3 separate regions of the Homo sapiens genome follow, and all the other regions are linked to region 2. The links come from fine-mapping of genetic effects on gene expression. A gene starts in region 2. Each other region holds a variant in brackets. All regions are shown on one strand. Distances are between the middles of the regions. Region 1 overlaps AHNAK2 (AHNAK nucleoprotein 2). Region 2 holds the start of SIVA1 (SIVA1 apoptosis inducing factor). Region 3 has its middle 140 kb from the start of C14orf180.

Region 1 (8,174 bases), 210 kb before region 2:
ATGGAAGGGTCCAGGTTTATTGGTTTCCCAGTAAATACCCAGCTGTTCCAGGACCATTCGGTGAAAAGACTTTGCTTTCTGTTGGAATAACTGGGCTGCTTTGACAAGAATTTGGCCGGGCATGGTGGCTCACGCCTGTACTTTGGGAGGCCAAGGCAGGTGGATCACTTGAGGCCAGGAGTTCAAGACCAGCCTGGGCAACATGGTGAAACCCCATCTCTACTAAAAGTACCAAAAAAAAAAAAAATTAGTGAGGCATGATGGCGCATGCCTGTAATCCCAGCTACTTGGGAGGATGAGGCACCAGAAACGCTTGAACCCAGGAGGCAGAAGTTGCTGTGAGCTGAGATTGTGCCACTGCATTCCAGCCTGAGCGACAGAGTGAGACCCTGTCTCAAAACAAAACCAACCAACCAACAAACAAGAATGAATTGGCCATGTAAGTGTGGGGCTGTTCTGGACTTTGTTTTCTGTTCACTGATTTGTGTTTCTGCCGCACTGTCTTGATTCCACTGGGGGTCAGAGAAGAGAACTCGGATGACTGAAGTTATTTTAAATTCGTCAAGACAGGTTTCTGAGCCAGCATGGGGCCTGTCTCAGTGACTGTCCCCTGTGCACCTGAGAGCAGCATGCACCGGCTGCTGTCAGGAGTGTTCTCCCAGTGCCAGTTTGGTCTCGTTGGTTGATGGGTACTTCAAGTGTTTTGTATCTTCCCCTATTCTACTTTGTAAGGTTATCATTTCCTAAGAGTGTTAGAATCTCCTATTGTATAATAATTGTGGATTTATTTCTCCTTTCAGTTTTGCCAGTTTTTACTGCAGTGTTTCAAAAAGGAGATCTAGGTGTTTTTTGGTTTGTTTGTTTTTTGAGACAGGGTCTTGCTTTGCTGCCCCGGCTGGAGTGCAGTGGCATGAGCTTGGCTCACTGCAGCTTTAACCTCCTGGGCTCAAGTGATCCTCCCACCTCAGCCTCCCGAGTAGCTGGGAATACAGATGTGCGCCACCATGCATGGCTAATTTTTAAATATTTTCTAAAGATGAGGTCTCACTGTGTTGCCCAGGCTAGTCTCAAACTCCTGGCCTCAAGTGTTCCTCCTGCCTCGGTCTCCTAAAGTGCTGGGATTACGGCACAAGCCACTGTGCCCAGCCTAGCATTCCATTTTGGTTCCACTATTGGCTTATTACCTATACATCTTTTTATTTTTTTAATGGTTGCATTATGCTTTATACCCTGAATATTTAACTTATTACAGTATAATTTCAAGTAAGATTGTCCTACTTTAAGTATAATGTAAGATCTTCACAACAGCAACTTTTTTTTTTTTTTTAAGATGGGGTCTCGCTGTCACCCAGGCTGGAGTGCAGTGACGCGATCTCGGCTCACTGCAGGCTCCGCCCCCCGGGGTTCACGCCATTCTCCTGCCTCAGCCTCCCGAGTAGCTGGGACTACAGGCGCCCGCCACCTCGCCCGGCTATTTTTTTGTATTTTTAGTAGAGACGGGGTTTCACTGTGTTAGCCAGGATGGTTTTGATCTCCTGACCTCGTGATCCGCCCGCCTCGGCCTCCCAAAGTGCTGGGATTACAGGCGTGAGCCACCGTGCCCGGCCCACAACAGCAACTTTTGCACTCCATCCCCATCCTGTCATATGCTTTACTTCTATATTTGTAAAATTCTAAGATACATTTTATTTTATTTGTTTTTTTTTTTGGAGACAGAGTCTTGGTCTGTTACCAAGGCTGGAGTGCAGTGGAACAATCTCAGCTCACTGCAACCTCCACCTCCTGGGTTCAAGTGATTCTCCTGCCTCTGCTTCTTGAGTAGCTGGGATTACAGACGTGCACCACCCTGCCCAGCTAATGTTTGTATTTTTAGTAGAGAGGGGTTTCACCATGTTGGCCAGGCTGGTCTCAAACTCCTGGCCTCAAGTGATCTGCCCTCCTTGGCCTCCCAAAGTGCTGGGATTACAGGTGTGAGCCACCGTGCTGACTTATTTTTGTTTTATACAGTTAATTACCTTTTTCTTTTACAGTTTCATTGAGGTACAGTTTATAAACCATAGAACTCACCCATTGTAAATGTACAATTCAATCATTTTACTAACCTTATAGAGTTGTGCAAACATTACCACAATCCAGTTCTGGAAGACCTCCATCACCTTCCAAATTTTCTCAACCCCATTTACAATCAATCTCCCTTCCCACTCCCAGCCCCAGGCAATGCCAGCTTAATTCTGGTAAATTATAGAAACTTTGGTCCAGGGTACACTTGTGCCTCAGCATCCATGAGGGATTGCTTCTAGGACCTCCCTCAGATACCAAAATTCATGGATGCTCAAGTCCCTTCTATAAAGCAATGTAGTATTTGCAAATAACCTACATACATCTTCCCTCCCCTATACTTTAAATCATCTCTAGATTACTTATAATACCTAATGCAATGTAAATGCTATGTAAATAGCTGGTATACTATATTGTTTAGGGAATAATGACAAGAAAAAAAGTCTACACGTGTTCAGTACAGGTGCAATTTTTGGGAGAACATTTTTGACCCAAGTTTCATTGAACTCAGGATACAGAAACCACTGATATGAGAGGCTGACTGTATACCCTCTCCTCCTACTCCTTTTTGCTATTATTGTCACGTATATACTGTATCTATATATGTTATAATCCTAACAATATGGTGTTAGAATTGTTGCCTTATATAAGTGGTTCACAGATGATTGTCTGTCTTCTAAATCCAGCCTCCTTTTTGTTTTACAAGTAAAGTTTTGTTGAAACAGTTTTGCTCATTTATTTACATATTATCTATAATCTATAGCTGCTTTTGTACTATGGCTGCAGAGTTGCAACAGAGATCATGTGGCCTGGTAAGCTTAAAATATCCACTATATTGCCTTTTTCAAGAAAAGTTTGTCAATCCTTGCTTTATACAATCCTCTGTTTTTGAAAGAAGTTAAGAAATAAAATGAGGACAATATATATTCATAGAGTCTTTTATATTTGCCTGCATAGTTACCATTTTCTGCATTCTCCATTTCTTCCTGTGCATTTGACTTAGTGTCTGGTATTAGTTCCTTTCAGTCCGAAGGACTTCTTTAGTATATCTTGTAAGGCAGATTTGCTAGCAATGACATTTCCAAGTCTTTGTTCATTTGGGAATGCCTTTATTTTTCCTTTTTTTAAAATTTAAATTTTTATTTTTTTGAGACAGAGTCTTGCTCTGCCTGACTAGAGTGAAGTGGTGCAATCACAGCTCACTGCAGCCTCAACCTCTCAGGCTTAAGCTATCCTCCCGCCTCAGCCTCCTGAGCAGCTGGGACTATAGGCATGCACCACCATGCCCCGCTAATTTTTAAAAAAATTTTTGGGCCGGACACGGCAGCTCATGCCTGTAATCCCAGCACTTTGGGAGGCTGAGGCAGGCGGATCACGAGGTCAAGAGTTCAAGACCAGCCTGGCCGACATGGTGAAACCCGTCTCTCCTAAACGTACGAAAATTAGCTGGGCATGGTAGCGCGTGTCTGTAGTCCCAGCTACTCGGGAGGCTGAGGCAGAAGAATCACTTGAACCTGGGAGGCGGAGGTTGCAGTGAACCAAGATCGTGCCACTGCACTTCATCCTGGGTGACAGAGTGAGACTCCGTCTCAAAAAAAAAATTTTTTTTTGTAGAGATGAGATCTTACTATATTGCTCAGGCTGGCCTTGAGTTTCTGGGCTCAAGCAATCCTCGCACTTCAGCCTCCCAAAGTGCTGGGATTACAGGCATAAGCCAGCATGCCCAGACTATTTTGCCTTTATTTTTGGAAGGATAGGTTGCTTGATATCAAATTCTTCGTTGACAACAGTTTCTTTCAGCCCTTTGAATATATTGTTCCACTTTCTCGTAGCTTCTATGGTTTTGATGTGATTCAGGTGTTAGTTGTATTTTTGTGCCCTTATTATGTGATGGGGCCCTTTCTCTTAAGCATTTTGACTGTGACGTTTCTAGGTGTGGATCTCTGTGTTTCTCCTGCTTAGGTCTGGTCGCGCTTCTTGGATTCTGCAGATTGTTTTCAGCTATCACTTCTTCAACTCTCTCTTCTGCCTCTTTATCTTATGGTTAATGCTCTGAGACTCTGTTTTTCTTCAAACAATCTTCCCCCTGACCCCGTTCTTCAAATTGGTTAATTTATATTAATCTACAAGTTGATAATTCTTCTGGTATCTCAAATCTGTTGGTGAACCCCAGTAGTAAATTTTCAACTCCAGAATTTTTGCTTGCTTTTAAAAAATAAGTTTTATTTCTTTATGAGATTCTCTCTTCATTGAGCCATTGTTAACATATTTTCCATTAATTTTTTAAACATGATTTGTTTTTGTGTTTTGAACAAACTTTTTTTTTTCTTTTTGAG[A/G]CGGAGTTTCACTCTTGTTGCCCAGGCTGGAGTACAATGGCACAATCTCGGCTCACCACAACCTCCGCCTCCCAGGTTCAAGTGATTCTCCTACCTCAGCCTCCTGAGTAGCTGGGATTACAGGCATGTGCCACCATGCCTGGCTAATTTTGTATTTTTAGTAGAGATGGGGTTTCTCCATGTTGGTGAGGCTGGTCTCGAACTCCCAACCTCAGGTGATCCACCCGCCTCAGCCTCCCAAAGTCCTGGGATTACAGGCATGAGCCACCGTGCCCGGCCTGAACAAACTTTTAATAGTTTCTTTGAAGTCTGTATTAAACCCAGCATTAGTAGACATTTAGAGACACTTTCCATTCACTGCTTTGTTTCTCAGTATGGACCATACATTCTTGTTTCTTCGCGTAACTTGTAATTTTTTGGTGGCTGCTGGACATTTTAGATAATATATTCTGGCAGCTCTGGATTCTGATCCTCCCAGGGTGTGGTTATACAATAACAAACGCCTTGTGTTTGTTTAGTCACTTTCTTGGACTAAATCTGTTCCAACTTGGAATAAGTCCAGTCTCAATTCACTGCTACCTGACGTGATGCCTCAGCCTCTCCAGCCCATTGGCTATAGATCTTCCCCCAGCCCCTGAGTTTGCTCTCCGATCCAGTGTCCAGGAAAGGACTATGACACCTCCACAGTGTACATACAGTCCTGGCTCCCTCCCCCGGGCCCCGATCTGCTCCCCCAGCCTGCTTGTCTCCACTGACAGCCACTCTCTCTGCAGTGTCCGGCCGTCAGCTGCAGCCCGGGGAGCCAGGTGCAGAAACGGAAGATGACCACTCTGTAAGTGAGAGCAGGAGGAAGTGTGTCCTCCTCATACCCTGCCCCCATTCTCCCTGGGCCCTGGGAGAACCGAGTGGCAAAAATAACTGGATTCTCTCCCGTCAGGTGACTGAAGGGCCTGCGGATGAGGGCATTCGACCACGGCCGCAGGGGTCTTCACCTGTCTACGAATACACGACTGAGGCTGCCGACTTTGGACTCCAGGTGAGCCTGCTGGGCAGAGCCCCACAGGCACCCAGGTCTCCTCCTGCATCGCCCTGTGTGGGCAACTCACGCATGTCTGTTCAACCTTGCTGCCCTGCCCCGCTGCCCACTGGGCAGTGCCCACTCAGATGTCCTCTCAGACTCCTCTGTGCCCTTGGGTCCCTCCCTGTGGCCGGCCAGGGCACAGTGGGATGGAGGTGCCCTGCAGCTCTTGTGAGCATGCGTATGGGCTGATGGGGACAGGCCTCATGTTACTGTGTTTGTGTTTCAGGGGCACAGGGTGTGTGCATCCCTGCACCTGTGTAACACACTCATGCTGTCTTTGGGGACAGGGCCCCATGGCTACCTCTGGAGACAAGGACTCGGGGAAGGGATCAGAGGAGGCATGTCTATGAAAGGATTCATTTTTGTACAATTTGAATTTCTTATCTCCCTCCATACAAAACTCCAGTTGCTGTGGGGCTTCCCTATGGGCGCTGTGGGCTGTAGGGTGGGTGCTGTGGGCTGTAGGCTGGGCCCTGTCGGGAAGCAGGAAGGCCGAGAGTTGCCTTTTCTCTGTGGATGTGCCTGGAGGAACTCGGCTGCCTCTGCACACAGCTGTGTGTTGGAAGTTCTGGGCCCCTCTGAAGGGAGGGCTCCTGGTCTGGCACCAGCCTACCTGTGCCCCTCCCTGTCCCTGAGCTGGGGCAGGTGCCTAACTCCCAACACTTGTGGCTGCAGGAAGACGCCCCCGGCAGGCAAGGTTCTGCTGGGAGACGGAGATCCTGGTGGAAGCGAGATTCAGGGGACTCACGGACATTTTTCAGGATGAGTCGTCCAGAGGTGGGTACAGCAGGAGCTGAGGGTCACAGAGGTGTGTCGGTCCTCAAGGGATCCAGCCAGAGAGTCCGAGGTCAGAGCAGGCAGGGGAGGAGCAAAGAGGCTGGCAGTGTGCCCCGTGCCCTGGGGAGGAGGGGTGTTCTTGTCCCCCTTGTCAGGCCTGGGGAAGGGCAGGGGCTCCAGAAGGCTACATCTGGTCCTGGCCCTCTCCACCCCTCCCTGGGGTGGAGTCTGATGCATAGCCAAGCTCCTGGCCAGGTAGACCTGGCTGTACAGACCTCGATTTTCTCCTCCGTGCAATGGGGCAGTGCTGGTGTCTGTTGCATATTCAAGCTGTGGGGCTGAAAAGGCCAGTCAGCACCCAGGCCATGGAACTATGGAAGGTGCTAGACTCTGCTAGCACCCAATGATGAGGGCACTCTGCCTCTTAAGCAACTAGTTTTTTTCCTTGGAGGCCCCAGCAGTCCAAGAGCTCTGCAGGACACAGGCCCCATCCTGTCCCAGGTCTCGCAGGCTGCACCCAATGTCCCGTATTTTCCTTGGCATTGCTGTGCTTCCTTGTCTTGAGCATCAGGTGCCTTGCACACAACTGGTGCTTCACGCGTTTGTGAAGAATGCATGAAGGAGCTGAAAAAGAGAAACTGGCCACAGGGAAAGCAGAATCCGTTCTGCGCTGCTCCTGGTGCCCTGCTGGGCCTGGTGGCATGGACAGGCTGTGCCTAAGTCCTGGCAGGTTGGGGTGGGGACAAGAGTTCTGGCAGGTTCCAGCTGGCTTCCTCCAGAGCTCAGAGACAGCTACCTGAGCCCACCTGGTGGGTACCCTACTCTGCTCTGTGTTGTCTGGGCTGATGGAAAGGATGGTGGGGTGCCCATCCTCTGGAGACACAGGCCCCAGCAGGGATGCTTATGGTGGGACTGGCACATGCTCACCATGGCCCTGATGTGCTTCTGCTCCAGGCTGTCCAGGAGGCAACAGAGGTGACGCTGAAGACAGAGGTGGAGGCAGGAGCCAGTGGCTACAGTGTCACAGGTGGTGGGGACCAGGGGATCTTCGTCAAGCAAGTGCTGAAGGACTCCTCAGCCGCCAAGCTTTTTAACTTGAGAGAAGGTGCCATGGCAGTTCCATCCCTGGGGTCACCATTCTCCCCACCAGGATGGGAGGGACCTGGAGGGGGGTATTGAGGGGTAAGAACCACACCTGGAGCTTAGGATGACCTCCTCACGCCTCTGCTCAACAGCTTGAGGCTGGGATCACCCACTGCATCTAGTAAAATGGGGGACCCCATCCACCTTGCCTGTGCCTGAGGCACTCAGTGGGGGACTGGTGGGGCAGACTCAGTGGGATTCCCCCTATTCATGTCCCCGGGACCCTCCTCGCCAGCCAAGGCAAGACAGCAGACCCCGTCTCATTCACACACCCGGCCCTGGGGCTGCTCTTTCTTGGTCTAGGGGATCAGCTGCTCAGTACAACCGTGTTCTTTGAAAACATAAAATATGAAGATGCTCTCAAAATCCTTCAATATTCAGAGCCGTACAAGGTTCAGTTCAAAATCAGACGGCAGCTCCCTGCCCCACAGGATGAAGAGTGGGCTTCCAGCGATGCCCAGCACGGCCCACAGGGCAAGGAGAAGGAGGTGAGACCACTATGCCCGGGGGGCAGGGCCCCAGCTGGCTTCACTACCCTGCTGGCTGAGCCTGGGAGGGGATAGCACTCCCACTCCATCTGTCCCTGGGCCAGGGCCCCAGGCTTCTTGGACTGGCACCAACAGATTCCCTCTCCCTATGTTTCAGGACACGGATGTTGCTGATGGGTGCAGAGAGACCCCCACGAAAACTCTGGAAGGAGATGGGGACCAAGAGAGACTCATCTCCAAACCAAGGGTGGGGAGAGGCAGGCAGAGCCAGAGGGAGAGGCTCTCTTGGCC
Region 2 (8,174 bases):
CACCTTAGGAGTAAGGACGGGATCCAGCCAGCTGCAGCAAACCCACCCACAAATGGGAGACTACACAAACACTCCACTTCCTGCCTGAGAGGGTCTACAACCAAACGGCACGCATGACTGTGGTGAAGCTGCGGTGTGCACCTGTGTCACCAACCAGGGGCTCCTCGGACGGGGGGAGGGGGGGCTCAAAGACCAGAGGAGGAGGAGGTGGGGGTGCTCAAAGATCAGAACAGGAAGTGGCTGAAGACAGGGACTAGAGCCGGATACAGAGCAGGTCATCTGTGAGGTTCAGCTTTCCCTTAGAGAGGATTACTAACCACTAAAGTTGGGCCAAGCATCTATTGCCACCATGTCCCGTTAGGCAATGCCAGATGGCACTGCATCAGGGGCCACACGTGTGTGTTCTGGGCCCACATGGGTGACCCACCCGTCCCCCATCACGGCTTGCTGGGGCTATGGGATCTCAGCAGCTCCAGGGACTGAAGTACTTACTCCACGAGGCCACACAGGGTACAGGCCACGGAGCCGCAGCCCCAGCAGGTGCGCACACACTGCCCGCACAGGGCTCGCTCACACTGACCGCAGACCGCCTTCCCATCCACGGCTCGCACGCATGAGGAACAGGCAATGGACGCTACCCCAGATGGGTCTGTGAGGAAGAAACGCCAAGCCGTCAGGCTGCAAGGAGACTGGAGTTTCCGGGACTGCCGGGCTACCTGCCTCCATGCATACCTGAGGGCAGAGGGCTCTGACCTGCCTACCCCATCCCCACCTACACTGGATCCTTCTGACAACCCGTGAGCCTGGTACAGTGCACAGGACCCCCGTTTTACTACAGAGATCCAAGGTGAGATATGCCTGTAGTTGACTCCAAGTTCAGTGCTCTTTCCCTTACCAGGTCCCTCTGCTACCTGGAGGCTAGTGCTGGAAGGACCATTCTTCCCCTGTTGCTTGTCAGAACTCCATGTGTCCCATCTGGGTCTCAGTGTGGCCCACTGCCTTACTGGTTAACAAAGAGGTGCCTGGGCTCCTCCTAGACACACCAACCAGACTTGAGGTAGAGTCGGGGATTGCATTTCTAACCAGCAACACAGGTGATGCTCTGAGACCCCACACTGCATAGGGATGGGACTGGCATGTTTCCAGCCTTGTGGGACTATCTGAGGGGGCTGCAGGCGGAAAGCAGACGGGATACCCGGGGAGTCTCTGCTGCTTTTTTGGCCCAGTACTTAGAAGCTGTTTAACAACTTCCAGTCTTGAATGTGAGACCTCCTGATAACAGGAGCCTTCTGAGCCAGAAGGCCAAGCTCTGGGTCAGAGTCCTGCTTACCCAGGGAGGAAAAGCCTGACCTTGCAAATCAAGAAAAATGCTCGTGCCACCACCTGCCCTCAGTGCCACAGCCACAAAGGGCTGCTGGTGCCACTCACCAGCTTCGGAGGCCTGCCCAAGGCTCCTGATCAGGCGGCCGTCTGGTCCAATCAGCATCTGCCCACGTGCAGCCCTCGGGGCCCCTGTAGGGCCAGGCTTTGGGGACTCTGGCAGGTGAACGACGGCACAGCCTTCATCCCACACGTGGTCCAGGTAGGCCTGGGCCCCGAGGAACAGGAGTCGCTTGGTCTTCTCTGGGGGAAGATAAATCATTCTCACGTCCTTCACTGTGTACCAACGAAGCCCCTGCATGGCCATTGAGTCTTTCTAGCCTCACATGAACCCCATCGTCCTCCTGTGTGCCCTCTGTCTCCCAGTAACCCCAGCCTGTGTTGTGCCCTGGCGAGCTGGGTCCTGCTCTGCCTCTATGCTGAGAATGCTTGTGCGTCCTTTCCTTACCTGGCTTAGCTGTCATCTCCTCCAGGAAGGCTCTGGCCCTGCAGCCCCACCTGTGTCTGATGCAAGGGTTCCCTCTCCTATCACTCGGCTCATTTTCTGCAATTCACGGCTGGCCTCGCCTCACTAAGCTTGTCCCCTTTCTCCCTTTTCTGCTTCCCCAGCACTCCCCACCTGGAAACCAGGCTCTGTGGAATGCACAGAGGGAGCTCTGCACTGTGGAGCACTAATTCACAAAACTCGTCCCCTGCCAAGGAAGCAGCCAGAGGCTTGGAGCTGGGCCTACAGCCTCTGGCCAGAGCACACCCCCTTCACCTGCTACAGAGTTGCTGGCAAGACAAGCATCCCAGAACCTTCCAGACCTCTTGTTCTAGAACACCCACCCATCCCTGGGAGCAGTGGTTTTCCATCAGGCCACAGTTCAGTCACCTGGGGAGCTTTGAAAAATCAGATGCCCAGGGCCAGACCCAGAAATGCTTTGTTTTTTGTTTTGCACCTCACCATAACACAGTAAAGGCAGAGATCCCAGAAACTCTATGTGGCTCTACATGAAGTGGGCAGCAATAATAGTGACAGGGTAACTCACATGGAGTAGCTGATGCCAGCCCACAACACCCTGCACCTTCCTCCTGGCCCCCCACACCTTCCCCCATCTATAAGGGGAAAGGAATGGGACAGACACGTGGTGAGGCTAATCCTTGTCCTCAAGGCCTTGTGGACAATTCGAGGTTAAGAGATCAGGGTAACAGCTGTGGCCTGGAATTTGGAAACTGTCACACAGTTCAAAGTAGGTGTCCTGCATTTACCATGGAAGGCCCACTGCACCCAGCAGACCTCCCTGACCTGACCCGGTGAGTGGCACACACCTGCCAACGCCCAGGTCAGGACACTCGGGAAGAATAAAGGGCCATACTGAGCCAGGCCCCATTTCCATCTTCCTCTTCTTGCCTGCACAGTGTTTGAATTTTTCAACTGTCCTGAGAGGGCACACGATTGCGGTCCTGCCACAGTTCCCACGGCATCATTCCCCTTACCTCCCCATGGCCCAGAATAGCACTCGCTTTCACAGCCCTAGCACACTGGAGACACCGCACAGAGGAACCTCGGGAGGCAGAGTCTTTCCCTCATTCCCAAGGCACAAGCGGCACCAGGTAAATCACACACCCCGGGTCATCCTCTAACTGCTCTACAGGTGCAGACTTTGTGTCCCAATCACTAGGCAAGGTAAGCTCCACTTTTTACCTGCCCCAGGGTATTAATCACCCCAGTCAGAGTGATGATCAATAAGATCAACACGCCTGAAATCCACAGGAGAAAGCCAGAGAAGGCCTGGGAGCTCACTGCCCTCACATCCCACCCAGAACTGGACACTGCAGCCACACGGAGTCCTATTTCGCTCTCCTGCTGCCTGGCTTCTGCCTCGCCCTCTTCCTTCCCTTCCTCTGCCTGGCTAACTCCTACTCGCCCCCACAGGATTCCGCTCAGACTGTTCTTCCAAGAAGCCTTCCGTGCCATCCCTGCAGGTGCGCCTGCACAAACCTGTGCCTGCCCCGACCACCTGTGGCGACTCCTCCTGCTGGTCTCCCCAACTAGGCTGGGGAGCTCCCGGGAGACGGGGCACATCTGTCTTGCCTGCCTTTGGTCTCCCGAGAAAGCCGCCGTGCCTGGCAGGGCCGCGCGCTCCATGAATACCTCTTGGGACAGGAGGGGCACTCTTCGGGTTGACTCCATGCAGGACGCCCCGCTCCCCAACCTCTCCCAGGACATCCTGCACGGGACAGTCCTGAGAAAGCACCAGGCGGGTGCCGCTCACTGCAGGGCGGCGACTAACCGGGATCGTGGAAGAGGGCGCGGGGGCTAGGGGCAGGGACCCTTTTCTTTCAGGCTGTTGGACAGGGTGGGCGAACGCTGGGGTCCTCACATCCCCCTCACTGACCCCAGCCCTGGGCGTGGCCAGCTTGTGTCCCCGCGGCCTCCCAGCTTCCGGGAACGCGGGGCCAGAAAGCAGGGCCCTCCAGCCCCCCGCTCAGGCCTCAGAGGGGACGCTGAGGCCCGGCCCGTTCCAGGCCCCGACGCAGCGGACCCTCGGCAGCCCGCCCGACACTCACCGAAGACCTCCTGCGAGTAGCGCTCGGCGCACACGCCGCGGCTCAACTCCCTCTGGCTCACGCGGACCTTGAGCTGTAGCGGGGCCACGTCCGCGAAGGGGCAGCTCCGCTTGGGCATGGCCGCGGGGCCGGGAGCTACGCAGCTCCCCGGCCGCCAGCCCCTTACCAACGACGCCGTGACGTCACAGCTGCGCGCCCATCCGCGGGCGAGAGCGGGTTTGAGGAGAGGGAGCGACGCGGCGCGTCATAGGCTGCGGGCGAAGTGGGAGGCGGGACTCCTGCGCGGAGCGGCGCGGGATAGGCCGAGGGAGAGATCGGGGGTGGGACTCGTGCGTCGGTGTACTGGACTCGACGCCGCGGGAAAGGCCAGGGGCCAGGTTGAGGATCAGGGTGGGCGGGTCCGTGGGAGAGATTTGTGCGCGCGCCGCTCAGGATAGGCGGGAGGAGAGACTAGGGGCGGGGTTCCTATGCGGCGCGAAGCGACGAAGGGTGGGAGCCAGGTCGCGGCATTCGGCTGCGCGGGAAGAGCCAGGGGGCGGGGGCGAGGCCGAGGGTCAGGACGGTGCAACGAGGGCGGAGCTTGTGCATCGGGGGCGGGCCTCGTTTGAGGATCGGCGTGGGATAGGCCAGGGCGACGTCGGGGCGGGTCTAGTTTGAGGAGCGGCGCGGGATAGGCCAGGGCAAAGTCTGGGGCGGCTGGGTCGGTGGCGGGATTCCTGTCAGCTTTTGTTTGGTTCCTAAACGGTAGACACTGGTTATAGTTCCTCATTTACTTCTCCGAAGTTAAGAGGCAGCCCGCTTCTTCCTAGCTCTTTTTTCCCCTTTAGAGACAGGGTCTCGCTCTGTCACCCAGACTGAGTGCAGTGGCAGTCTCGGCTCACTGTAGCTTGCGCCTCCCGGGCTCAGGCGATCCTCCCTTCTCGGCCTCCCCGGTAGCTGGGACCGCAGGCGCGCGCCTCCGCGCCCCGCTTTTTGGTTTTGGGTAGGAACGGGGGTTTTTCTGTGTTGCCTCAGCTGGCTTAGCTCCTCACTGTGGCGGTCTCCGCCTTCCAGAAGTAAAGGCGTGTGGGGGCTGCGCTCTGAGGGCCGCGTGCGGCTGCCGAGCGCCCCCGGGCGGGGGTATGCGCCGCTGTGTGGAAAATGTTCTTGCACAGCGGGTTCGTCTGACTTGGTGTCCCCATGCCGCGAGGTGCACCCGCGTCGTCCCTTCTCCGGGGTTCTGCTCACCAGAGGCGGCTCTCCCCTGCCCCGGCGGGTACAGAACCGACCCGTCCTGTGGCGTGGGCTTCGCCCTGTGAGAGATGACAGCGTGCTGGCAGCCCTCGCTCGCTCTCGGCGCCCACTCTGGCCGCGCTCGAGGGGCCCTTCAGCCCGCCGCTGCACTGTGGGAGCCCCTCTCTGGGCTGGCCGCGGCCGGAGCCGGCTCCCTCAGCTTGCAGGGAGGTGTGGAGGGAGAGGTGCGGGCGGGAACCCGGGCTGCACGTGGCGCTTGCGGGTCAGCGTGAGTTCCGGGTGGGCGTGGGCTCGGCGGGCCCCGCAATCGGAGCCACCGGCCCCAGGCAGTGAGGAGCTTAGCACCCGGGCCAGCAGCTGCGGAGGATGCGCCGGGTCCCCCACCAGTGCCGGCCCGCCGGCGCTGCGCTCGAATTCTCACCGGGCCTCAGCTGCCTCCCCGCGAGGCAGGGCTCAGGACCTGCAGCCCGCCATGCCTGAGTCTCCCCCCTGCCGTGGGCTCTTGCGCGGCCCCCTGCTCCGCGGCACCCGGTCCCATCGACCGCCCAAGGGCTGAGGAGTGCGGGCGCACGGCGCGGGACTGGCGGGCAGCTCCACCTGCAGCCCCGGTGTGGGATCCACTAGGTGAAGCCAGCTGGGCTCCTGAGTCTAGCGGCGACTTGGAGAACCTTTATGTCAAGCTAAGGGATTGTAAATACACCAATCAGCACTGTGTTTAGCTCAAGGTTTGTAAACTCACCAATCGGTACCCTGTGTCTAGCTCAAGGTTTGTAGATGCACCCATGGGCACTCTGTATCCAGCTAATCTGGTGGGGATTTGGAGAACCTTTATGTCTAGCTGTGGGATTGTGGACGCACCAGTCAGCACTCTGTGTTTAGCTCAAGGTTTGTAAATGTACCAATCAGCACTCTGTATCTAGCTAATCTGGTGGGGACTTGGAGAACCTTTATGTCTAGCTAAGGGACTGTAAATACACCAATCAGCACTCTGTGTCTAGCTCAAGGTTTGTAAAGACACCAATCAGCACCCTGTATCTAGCTCAAGGTTTGTAAATGCACCAATCAGTGCTCTGTGGGGACTTGGAGAACTTCTGTGTCTAGCTCAGGGATTGTAAACACACCAATCAGCGCCCTGTCAAGACGGACCAATCAGCTTTCTGTAAAACAGACCAGCCCTCTGTAAAATGGACCAATCAGCAGGATATGGGTGGGGCCAGATAAGGGAATAAAAGCAGGCCGCCCGAGCAGGCAGTGGGAACGTGTTGGTGTTCTGCCACATGTTTGGGGCTTTGCTCTTTCACTCTTTGGGTCCACACTTTTTATGAGCTGTAACACTCACTGGGAAGGTGTGTAGCTTCACTTCTGAGGCCAGCAAAGCCACAAACCCACCGGGAGGAATGAACAGCTCCAGACACACTGCCTTAAGAGCTGTAACACTCCTTGTGAAGGTCTGCAGCTCCACTCCTGAAGCCAGCAAGACCGTGAGTCTGCCAGAAGGAACAAACTCCAAACACGTCCAAACATCAGAAGGAACAAACTGCAGACATAACAATTTTAAGAACTGTAACAGTCAACTGTGAGGACCTAGTGCTTCATTCTTAAAGTCAGTGAGATCAAGAACCCACCAATTCTGGACACACCTGGACTATGTTCTCACGACTCCATCGGTGTTGCCTCCGGTGTGAAGAGGTGATGCCTGGAGTCCCGCAAACCCCTCCCACGTGACTCCCGTGTTGCAGCTGCCCACGCCCCCTCAGAGGCAGTGTATGCTTTCCTAGCCATGGGTGGCTGAAACCTTACCAGTCTCCAGCTTAGATGTCCTTTCTCCTCCTGCCGTGCAGGGTTCCCTGTGGTGGGGATGGGATCAAGCATTCTTGGCTCTTCCTTGCCACTTTGCTGGCATAATGGAGAATTTTTTCTGCCTTAGGGAAATGACTTGAAAGTTACTCAGTTGGAGTCACGTGTGACTAAACACAGATTTGGTTTATCCCAGAAATAGATGAAGTTCTCAGAGAGGAGGATTGTTTTCAATCTTATGGATCGTGGGGATTTCTAAAGATTTCCCTGTGTTCAGACTTGCAACTCTCCTAGGGTCTCATCACCATCGTGGACAGATACAGAACATCGGGCAGCTTATGGAGTGGGGCTGTCCCCCAGGCCACATGCCGGTTCCTCAGAGGTTGCTGGGTAGGATTCTGCTGCTTTAACAAACTTGCCTGGCTAACACCACTGGCTCACCCTTGAATGCCTTCCTGGGTGAAGCCATGAACCCTCCAGGGTTAAGCCCCAATTTTGGGGCTCACCTGCCCTGCATCAGATTGATGGTTAACTTGTAAAGAAACTGGCAGCTTTCCAGAGTGCTAGGAAAAAGGAAAATTATCATTAAACAAAATCATTGTCATAGTTTTCCTCTAATTCGTCTTGAGGTCTCTCCTGGAGAGTGGCTGTAAACTTTGGCCCTTCCCTGATGGGGCTCTGGGGGCGGTGGGCATGGGGTTACAGTGTGTGCTCTCGTGGGATGCCTCCTGACCCTGGCTGATGGCCTCAGGCCTGTGTATCCAGCTGTGCTGGCATTCCTCTCACCAGCAGCTTGCTTCTAGGCTTTGGCAGGCAGCCTGTGGCTTTTGTCTGAGCAGTGATCAGTTCATTCCTATCATGATGGTCTCTCTGGGAGAGTCCTGACCAGGAGAGTGAGGTTTGGGTGCAAGGGTCAGGTGAGAGCTGGAGGAGGCAGCACAGCAGAACACATGAAACTGCAGAGCAGGTGTGTGACTCAACCGGGCGGGAGCGAGGAGGCAGCGTTCCTCACAGGCCAGTGGGGAGGGGGAGCCACGGGGAACAGGCAGGCCCAGCCAGATGGTGGGGAGCGAGCCAGCGGCCTGTGCACCAAATCTGTATTCAGGTCCAGGGTGTTGTTACTCAAGTGCATTTCCTGTGGGGTGTGATTTCGAGCCGGCAGGCATCAGCTTCATGGCATCTTGCTGTGACTGGGTGGTGGTCACTGTGGC
Region 3 (8,174 bases), 310 kb after region 2:
TGGGTGGGGCCCTCTGGGGCACCCCCTCGTTAAAAGTTAGTGCTGAGGCAGAGTCTTAAGTCGGAGCAGGCAGGGCTCCCCTGCAGGCAGGCAAATCACAGCCTCAGCCCAGTGATTAGGCACCACCTCTGTGGAAGGGTCCCAGAGCTGCCTGTGATCCCTCACCCTGCAGTCTGAGTAATTCCTGAATGACAACCATCCACACTCCCTCACCCGTGCGGATACTGCCGGAAGAGCCCTTGCCAGGCCCCTACAGCTGGGTCTTCCCAAATCCACCTTCCACGGCTAGTTCCATCCTGTCCTGGGGTCAGTGGGGGAAGGGCAGGCCAGGCTCTCATCCCTCACCATGGCTGCTCCCCGTCATTCACTCATTTGCTCTTTCATTCCCTCATCCCACTGCTGTTTTCAGATGCTTCTGGAGCACAGAGCTGGCCATGTGGTTGGCTGGGAGCGGCAGATAAACCCATGCAAGTTTTATGGAGGAGAAAACAGAAGTTCTGAGAGATCACTTGCCCAAAGCCACATGGTTGGAAGGCTTGTGTTCATCCCTGCTCCCAAGACTCGCCTGACTCCACAGCATTCCATAGCCCTGGCCTGAAACTCTGGTCGCCTCGTGCCCGGTGTAAGGGTGGGGGCACTCCCAGGAGGGCTCGGAGGAGGCTTGGCTGGCCGTGTTCTGGGCCCTGCGTGATCCCAGGTTCTCCGACGGACCCCGGGGTGGCCGGGAGAAGCCGTATGTGCTGTGGACAGAGGTGTCTGCCCCCCAGCCCTGCCCAGGCCCAGGTCCTGCTCCTGTGCCTCGTGAGGGGGTGTTGCTGCCCAGTGCAGGCCTCACCTAGCAGTTCCTGGGCACTGGCTGAGGTCTGCTCCTGCTCCAAGTCCGGGGTCTCAGCCAGGCCCAGCCGGTGAGGGAGGCTGTGTGGCCTCGTGGGGTCGGGGCGGGTAGCTTCGAAGTGGTCAGCTGCTGCCTGCTGTGGCGGCTGGGGCTGGAGTCCTGCTCCTGGCTTTCCAGGATGCACAGGCTGGGCTTGGAGGAGCAAGAGGAGGCGGATGGAGGGCGGAAAGGAGCCCAGGGCCATGGCTCCCAACTCCTCTGAAAAGCCCGTGAGCTCGATAGCATCCACTTTGCATTTTATCAAATCGCCATTTCTCACAGAAGAATCTGTCAGCCACCAAAATTGCTGGCTGAAAGGAGCAGGAATGAAAAGATTCACCTTGAGGACATTCCTCTTTGTCAGGAGCAGAAAAGATTCCATTTGCCAGCCGGGAGAGGATTCCGGGTTCATTGATAGCAGCGTGCTGAGCTTCACGGGGAAGGGCTTCAGCAAATGGTCCTGCTTTTTCATGTGAAGCAAATTGTGGATAATGCGCCCTGCATTCTGTAATTACGAACATGAATAAAAGGGCCTTGGGCATTCACCGCGGAGTGGAAGCCTGTGTACCACCCAGGCATCCAGCAGACGGTGGGCCACGTGGTGTGGCCACTGCTGTCCTGCTGTCCTCCTGGCCTACCATCCTGCTGGCTGTTCCTCTCCAGCTGAGGCATCCTGGTGCCAGTGAGCCCTGAGCCCTCCGTCTCCAGCTGCTGCCCCATGCCCAGTGCCTGCCTGCTCAGCTCCCAACTCACCCGTGTCCTTCCTGTCTCTGCCCCAGCGAGGTTTGCTAAACCATGTCCATCCTCCAGCCCCTTGGAGCACCCTCCCCCAGGAAGCCTCCCTGACCCACCATCCACTGGGCTGTCTCCCATGCTGTCTGGAGCCTCACTTGTGCCCGTTGTCCAGGGCCTCCACCCCCGGCAGGGGTCCAGCTCCGTCTCCCTCTGTGCAGGCACCAGGTGACTCTGGGACTCAGCCCCTCCATCAATAAGGTGGACACCACCTTTGTGTTGCAGCTGGAAGGAAGGACAGGGCCCGGAATAGGGAATGGGCAGGGGTAGGGGAGCTAGGGACTCTGGCTCAGCCCCACCATGGATTTGTGGGTGTTGTGGGTGAATCTCTTCCAATCTCAATGCCTCAGTTTCCCCATCTGTCACTGAAGCCTTGTATAATCAGAAAGGGATGGGTTGGTGGTACAAATCCCAGAAAACACTACTCGAAACCCCACCATTCAGTTCCCACGTCTGTGGCATTAGTGTCCTAGGCTGCCGTACCCAGGTGTAGGCACACCTTGTTTTATTCCTCTTCACTTTATTGCACGTTGCAGATACTGTACTTTTTTTTTAACAAATTGAGGGTTTGTGGCAGCCCTGTGTTGAACAAGTCAATCAGAGCTGTTGTTCTAACAGCACGTTGCTCATGTCACATCTCTGTGTCACACTTTGGTAATTCTCACAACATCGCACGCTTTTGCATCATTACTGTATGTTATGGTGATCTGTGGTCAGTGATCTTCGATGTTACTAGTGTAACTGGGGAAACCATGAACCATGCCACATCTCTCACTTTAAATCAAAAGCTAGAAGTGATTCACCTCTGTGAGGAAGGCAGGTGGAGACCCCATGCAGGCCGAAAGCTGGGAGCTGGGCATCTGGTGCCGGTTGGCCAAGTTGTGAATGCCAAGGAAAAGTTCTATAAGGAAATTTTAAAAATTTTAAAAATGCTGATGTGGAGACAGCTCGAGTGGTCTGGATAGATCCAAGCAGCCATCACACTCCCCTTAAGCCAAAGCCTCACCCCCAGCGAGGCCCTGATTCTCAGTTCTGTGAAGGCTGACAGGGATGAGGAAGCTGCAGAAGAAAAGCTGGAAGCTGGCAGAGGTCGGTTCGTGAGGCTTAATGTGTGTCCCCAGAACATGAAAGTGCAGGGTGAAGCGGCAAGTGCTGACGGAGAAGCTGCAGCGAGTTATCCAGAAGATCCAGCTTGGATCATCGACGAAGGTGGCTACACTAAACAACAGATTTTCAACGTGGAAGACACAGCCTTCCATTGGAAGAAGATGCCATCTAGGACTTTCATAGCTAGAGAGGAGAAGTCGATGCCTGGCCTCAAAGCTTCAAAGGACAGGCTGCCTCTCTTGTTAGGAGTGAAGGCAGCTGGTGACTTTAAGTTGAAGCCAGTGCTGATTTACCATTCCTGAAATCCTAGGGCCCTTAAGAATTACGCAAAGTCGACTGTCTGTGTTCTGAAAATGGAACAACAAAGCCTGGATGACAGCACATCTGTTTACAGCACGATTGGCTGAATATTTTAAGCTCACCGTTGATACCTACTGCTCAGAAAAAAAAAAGGTTCCTTTCAAAATATGACTGCTCATTGACATGACCTGGTCACCCAAGAGCTCTGCTGGAGACTCGCAGGAGACGAACGTTGTTTTCATGGCTGCTCACACGACATCCATCAGGCCGCCCACGCATCAGGGAGTCATTTCAACTTTCAAGTCTTACTATTTAAGAAATACATGTTGTAAGGCTGTAACTGCCATAGACAGTGATTTCTCTGATGGATCTAGGCAAAGTCAATGGAAAATCTTCAGAAAGGATTCTCCATTCTAGAAGCCGTGAAGAATGGGAGGAGGTTGAGATATCAACATTGACAGGAATTTAGAAGAAATGGATTCCAACTCGCATGGATGACTTTGAGGGTTCAAGACTTCAGGGAAGCAGGAACTGCACATGTGGTGGAAATAGCAAGAGAACTAGAATTAGAAGTGGAGCCTGAGGATGTGACTGAATTGCTGCAGTCTCATGAAGAAACTCGAATGGATGAAGAGTTGCTTTTTACGGATGAGAAAAGAAAGTGAACACTGTTGAAATGACAACAAAGGATTTAGAATATTCCATCAAAACTTAGTTGATGGAGCAGTGGCAAGGATTGGGAAAATTGACTCCACTGCTGAAAGAAGAACTACTGTGGATAAAATGCTGTCAACAGAATCGCACGCTACAGCAAAATCTTTCAGGAAAGGAAAAGTCTATTGATGAGGCCAGCTTCACTGTTGTCCTAAGAAATTGCCACAGCCACCCCAGCCTTCAGCACCCACCACCTCCATCAGACAGCAGCCATCAACATGGAGGCAAGACCCTCACCAGCAAAAGATGATTCACTGAAGGCACAGATGGTCGTTAGCATTGTTTGGCAATGAAGTGTATTTTAATTAAGGTAAGTACATTGTTTTTTAGACGATGCTATTGCACACTGAATAGACTACAGTACAGTGAAAATGTCACTTTTATATGTACCGGGAAACCAAAAAATTCATGTGACTCACCGTATTGTAAAACTCACTTTATTGCAGTGGTCTGGAATGGAACCCACAATATCTCTGAGATTTGCCTGTACCAGATCGTGGGTGGCTTAAACAACAGAGATTTTTTCCCGCAATGTTTTGAAGGCAGAAAGTCCAGGATCCAGGCATTGACAGGGCTGGGTCCTTCCGGGGCTGTGAGGGAGAACTTGTTCCACAGCTCTTGCCTCGTTTCTGGAGGTTGCTGGCCGTCTCTGGGGTCCACGGCTTGTGGAAACATCACCCCGACCCTTGCTCTCACCCCCTCGGTGTTTGCCCTGTGCACGTGTTTGTATCCAAATTCCTTCTTTTTATAAGGACAACTGTCATGTCCGATGAGGGGCCTGCCCTGCTGCAGGGTGGCCTCATTTTTCTAATCACATCTGCAGTGACCCTATTTCTAAATAAGATCACGTTCTGTGTACTGGGGATTCGGGCTTCGACATCCAAACTCCACCTGTAGCATCTGGAGCTGGTGGCTTGGGCTGCTCAGCCTCTGTGCTGGCGTGTACCCCCGACACAGGCCACAGGGACACCTCCTCCCTGCAACCCCTTTGCCATGGGATGGCCCATGCCAGGGGGACGGCTACTTGACTTGGGGGACGCAAACAAGGTGGGGGCTGGTCTGAGGCCAGAGTCTGCATCTGGGTGCCCCACCAAGGCTGTGTTCACACCTCTGAGAGCTGACCCACAAACTCACCTGGGACCCGGGGGCCTGCAGCCCTCAGGACCTGCCCCTGCCCTCCCCTCCCCTCTTTCTTTCCTTTGCTTTGCTTTCTTAGAGGATACAGAATGGATGTGGCTGGTGGGACACTCACAAGGGGCTTTTAGACACTGCCTAGTAAAAGAGCTTGGCGCTTGAGG[G/C]GGCTTGGCCAAGTCTTCATCCCCCACCTGCGGGGCATCCAACTGCCCTGGATCCCCTGCGTCCCTTCACTGTGACCTTGGGCCTGGAGGGAGCAGACAGGCAGGCCTCACCTCCTGCGCTGTGTGCAAATTAAGTGCTGTGATGCCAGTGGAGCTGGCCCCCGGGGCTGGCCTGGGTGGTCAGGCCCCCCTTCCTTCCTCCTTCCCTGCCTCCCTCCCTCCTGCCCTTGGAAGAACAGCCTGGGCTCTCACCCACCAGGGAAGACTTCTTTCTGTCTCTCTCTTTCTCTCTGCTGTGGTCTGGGGGCTTCCAGGGGTGGTCTCCTCACTGTGTGCTTAGCGTCTCCTCCCTGCCCACTCCCAGGCACTTTCTGTTGTGTTCCCATGGGGTGGGGCGGGGTGAGGGCACGGATGTGGCATGTGGCCTTCCCAGTGAGCGCTGAATAATTAACAGCCAGGTAATGAAAGGCTCACTGGGTATTGATTGTGCCCTGGGGCCAGTGTGGGGAGGACTCATGTGTCCCAGCCCAGTGTCACCACCCACAGGCAGGCGGGAGGGCACCAGCTCAGAGGAACCTGAAGCCAGTGAAGGGCCCACAGCTGCCCACTGAGCAGCTGGCCAGGGCCCAGGAACTCCCCCTCTGCGATACCTGCCCCAGGAGTGCCCTGTCAGAGGGGAGAGGCCCAGGAGAGTGGGCGCTTACAGGAGATCCCCCTGCCTGACAGTCCTGGAAGGCTTCCAGGGCAGGTGGGGCTGGGCCTCCTGCAGCTGGGTGGGGCCGGCAGAGGTGGGCAGTGTGCTTTCAGGGCCCTGCAGCAGCTGGAGCCACCGCCTCATCCAGAGCCCCGCTGCTCAGAGCAGGGCTGCCTTCCCTCCATAATTAATTCATTGGGCCTCTGGCCCCTGTCTGGCTGCATCTCCACAAGGGAAGAAAGAGACCAGCCACCTCCCTCTCTGAGAGCAGCTTACACAGCAAGGCCCGTCAGGCTGAGCCACAACCTGGGACCCTCACCCTGCCCCCGTGCTGTGCTGGCCTGGCCCTTGGGTTCACCCACTGCTGGCTGCCTAACACCCTGTCCTCCAGGGGCTGGAGTCCAGCCCCTTTCTGGGAGCCCCCATTCCAGCCCCACAGGCAGTGTAGTAGCCAGTGCAGAGTCCGCACACGGCAGTCACCTGCCTCTCCCCTGGCCCTGGCTGGGTGACTCCCTGGGGTGTGGGGTGAGGACCATACGGCTCCTGTACCAGGGGCAGCCCCAAACTCCTTGCCTGGTGCTTCACCAGCCCCCAGCGTCTCCAGGTCTGATTGACTCATTATCTGCTCCATCGCCCTCCTTCCCACACCTAAGCTCTGACCCTGGGTAGGGGTCCAGCCTTGCCGTGTCTGAGGCCAGTGGAGACGGGCCTGGCACTGCCCAGCAGAGCACGCACGGCCATGCTGGAGCTCACCCCACAGGACGGAGAATGACACCAGCGCAGCTGCAGTAAGGACCAGGGGGTGCCCGGGAGGCTGGAGGCTAAGTAGGGCCCCTTGGTCCTGTGGTGGGAATGGGAACAGGGCCCTGGTGGGAGGGAAGTCCTGGGACAGAGCTTGGCCAGCCAGACACAGGCATGCAGTGGGAGGAGCTTGTGTCAGCAGTTCCTGGGGGAAGCTTACGGTCAGCCCCCGGCACGTCTCCTGGCATGGCCGCGGAGAAAACAGGCCACTGCGGGGAGGCAGCCGCCGGGCTAGGGGCTTGGCAGAGTGACCAGGCCCAGCTGTACACCCTTGCTGCCGTCCTGCTTCTCCATAACATCCTGTGTGGTTTCCTGCCCTGGCAGTCCTGGAGCCTTCACCCCGACTGCCCCAGGCCTGCCTCCCTCAGCTCCGCCCATCTGCAGGAGGCTCAGCTCCACCTCCCCCTGGAAGCCCGCCAGGACTACCGGGCCAGGCCAGAGGGCTTCCTGCGAGCGCCCACTCTCCTGGGCTTCCTCCCTCCTAGTGGGCGCTCCCCAGTGGACACGGATTCACTGTGCGTCCCTGGACACCTCTGGAATGTCAGCTGTCCCAGCGCATTGTCCCGATTTGTGGGATGGACTGCAGGGTTGTTGGGAGGAATAGAACAGGGCCCACCACAGCCTGGGACCATCTGCACCAGCTGGGATCATAGCTTGGGGCAGATTTTCCTAGTTCTGGCAAGACTTGCTTGAGCATAGAGAGGTCAAGGAGGCCGCATGTCTTGGGGGTAGAGTGCAAAGGGCAGGGGCTGACCCTTCCCAGTTAGCGGGGGTCCTGGGGAGGAGTAGATGCTGGGCCATCGTTCCGTGGAAACAGGACTTTAGGGGAGCCAGGGCCGTGGGCCTACCCTCCCTTCTCACTGCTGGTGACCAGGCTCGGCTTGAGGATGGGCGTGGACACGCTGGCTGCAAGGGCGCCATGTCTGGCGCCTACCTTGGGCCTGCTCTGCTCTCCTATGACTGCCAGTGGCCCCAGCACAGGTGATGGAGGGAGTGGGACAGGGTCCTTCCCCAGCACCTGCCCTCAGGGTGGCTGGACTGCCTGATGACAGCCTGTACTGACCCTGTGGTGCTGGCAACCCCACAGGAGCCCTAGGCCCTGGCCAGCCAGGCCTTCTTGGGGCACGACGGGGCCAGGGCTGGCTCCAGGGAGCCACTCGGCTGTGGGGCGTGGGCCTCATTTTAGGGTTTCTCCTCCTCCCACTCCAAGGCACTGTGCCCACTAGTCACCCCTTGCTGGGCCTCCGGGGGTCACAGTGAGGCTGGGCCAGGTCCCCTGCCTGGAGCCCACCTCCCTGAGCACCCCGACTGCCCCACAGGAACCATGGTGGGACTTGCTTGCTGGTAGCCATCAAGTCAGCCCTGCGAAGTCTGATGTTTGGAAATGCCGCTCACAGGCCACCTGCCTGCTCTTGGAGGCCCCGTTACCAGGAAGGCCTTTCCCATTCTGCAGGTCTGGGCATGTCGTGAGTGGGCCAGCACTCACACTGCCTCACAGTGAAGGGCACACAGCTGGGGACCCTGGAGTCCTCTGCTCCGGGAGGGGGTCCAAGCCCCTGAGACTCACCCTTTTCCGGGTAGTTCCTAGCCCTAC

What was found.
Region 1: its variant is fine-mapped to the expression of SIVA1 in monocytes after LPS (Quach 2016, PIP 0.91).
Region 3: its variant is fine-mapped to the expression of SIVA1 in tibial nerve (GTEx, PIP above 0.99).

The regions. Positions count from the first base shown.
Region 1 is chr14:104,954,666-104,962,839 of GRCh38, reverse strand. It overlaps AHNAK2 (AHNAK nucleoprotein 2), which reads left to right. Exons shown (of 7, transcript NM_138420.4): 2 at 5,168-5,226; 3 at 5,332-5,430; 4 at 6,151-6,252; 5 at 7,207-7,357; 6 at 7,699-7,883; 7 at 8,041-8,174. Among named protein-coding and RNA genes, the nearest start is that of AHNAK2, 20 kb to the left of the region's middle. RefSeq lists a cis regulatory region at 5,727 and an enhancer at 5,643-5,812. The variant A/G (reference allele first, on the strand shown) is at 4,395.
Region 2 is chr14:104,749,079-104,757,252 of GRCh38, reverse strand. It overlaps SIVA1 (SIVA1 apoptosis inducing factor), which reads right to left and starts at 4,106. Exons shown (of 4, transcript NM_006427.4): 1 at 3,934-4,106; 2 at 1,429-1,623; 3 at 493-649. The coding sequence starts at 4,051. It overlaps LOC107987209 (a long non-coding RNA gene), which reads left to right. Exons shown (of 3, transcript XR_001750915.3): 2 at 1-847. RefSeq lists enhancers at 4,011-4,080, 4,091-4,140, 3,786-4,287, 4,991-5,080 and a silencer at 4,241-4,610.
Region 3 is chr14:104,434,973-104,443,146 of GRCh38, reverse strand. No RefSeq gene overlaps it. Among named protein-coding and RNA genes, the nearest start is that of C14orf180, 140 kb to the left of the region's middle. RefSeq lists enhancers at 1,336-2,118, 7,294-8,159. The variant G/C (reference allele first, on the strand shown) is at 5,086.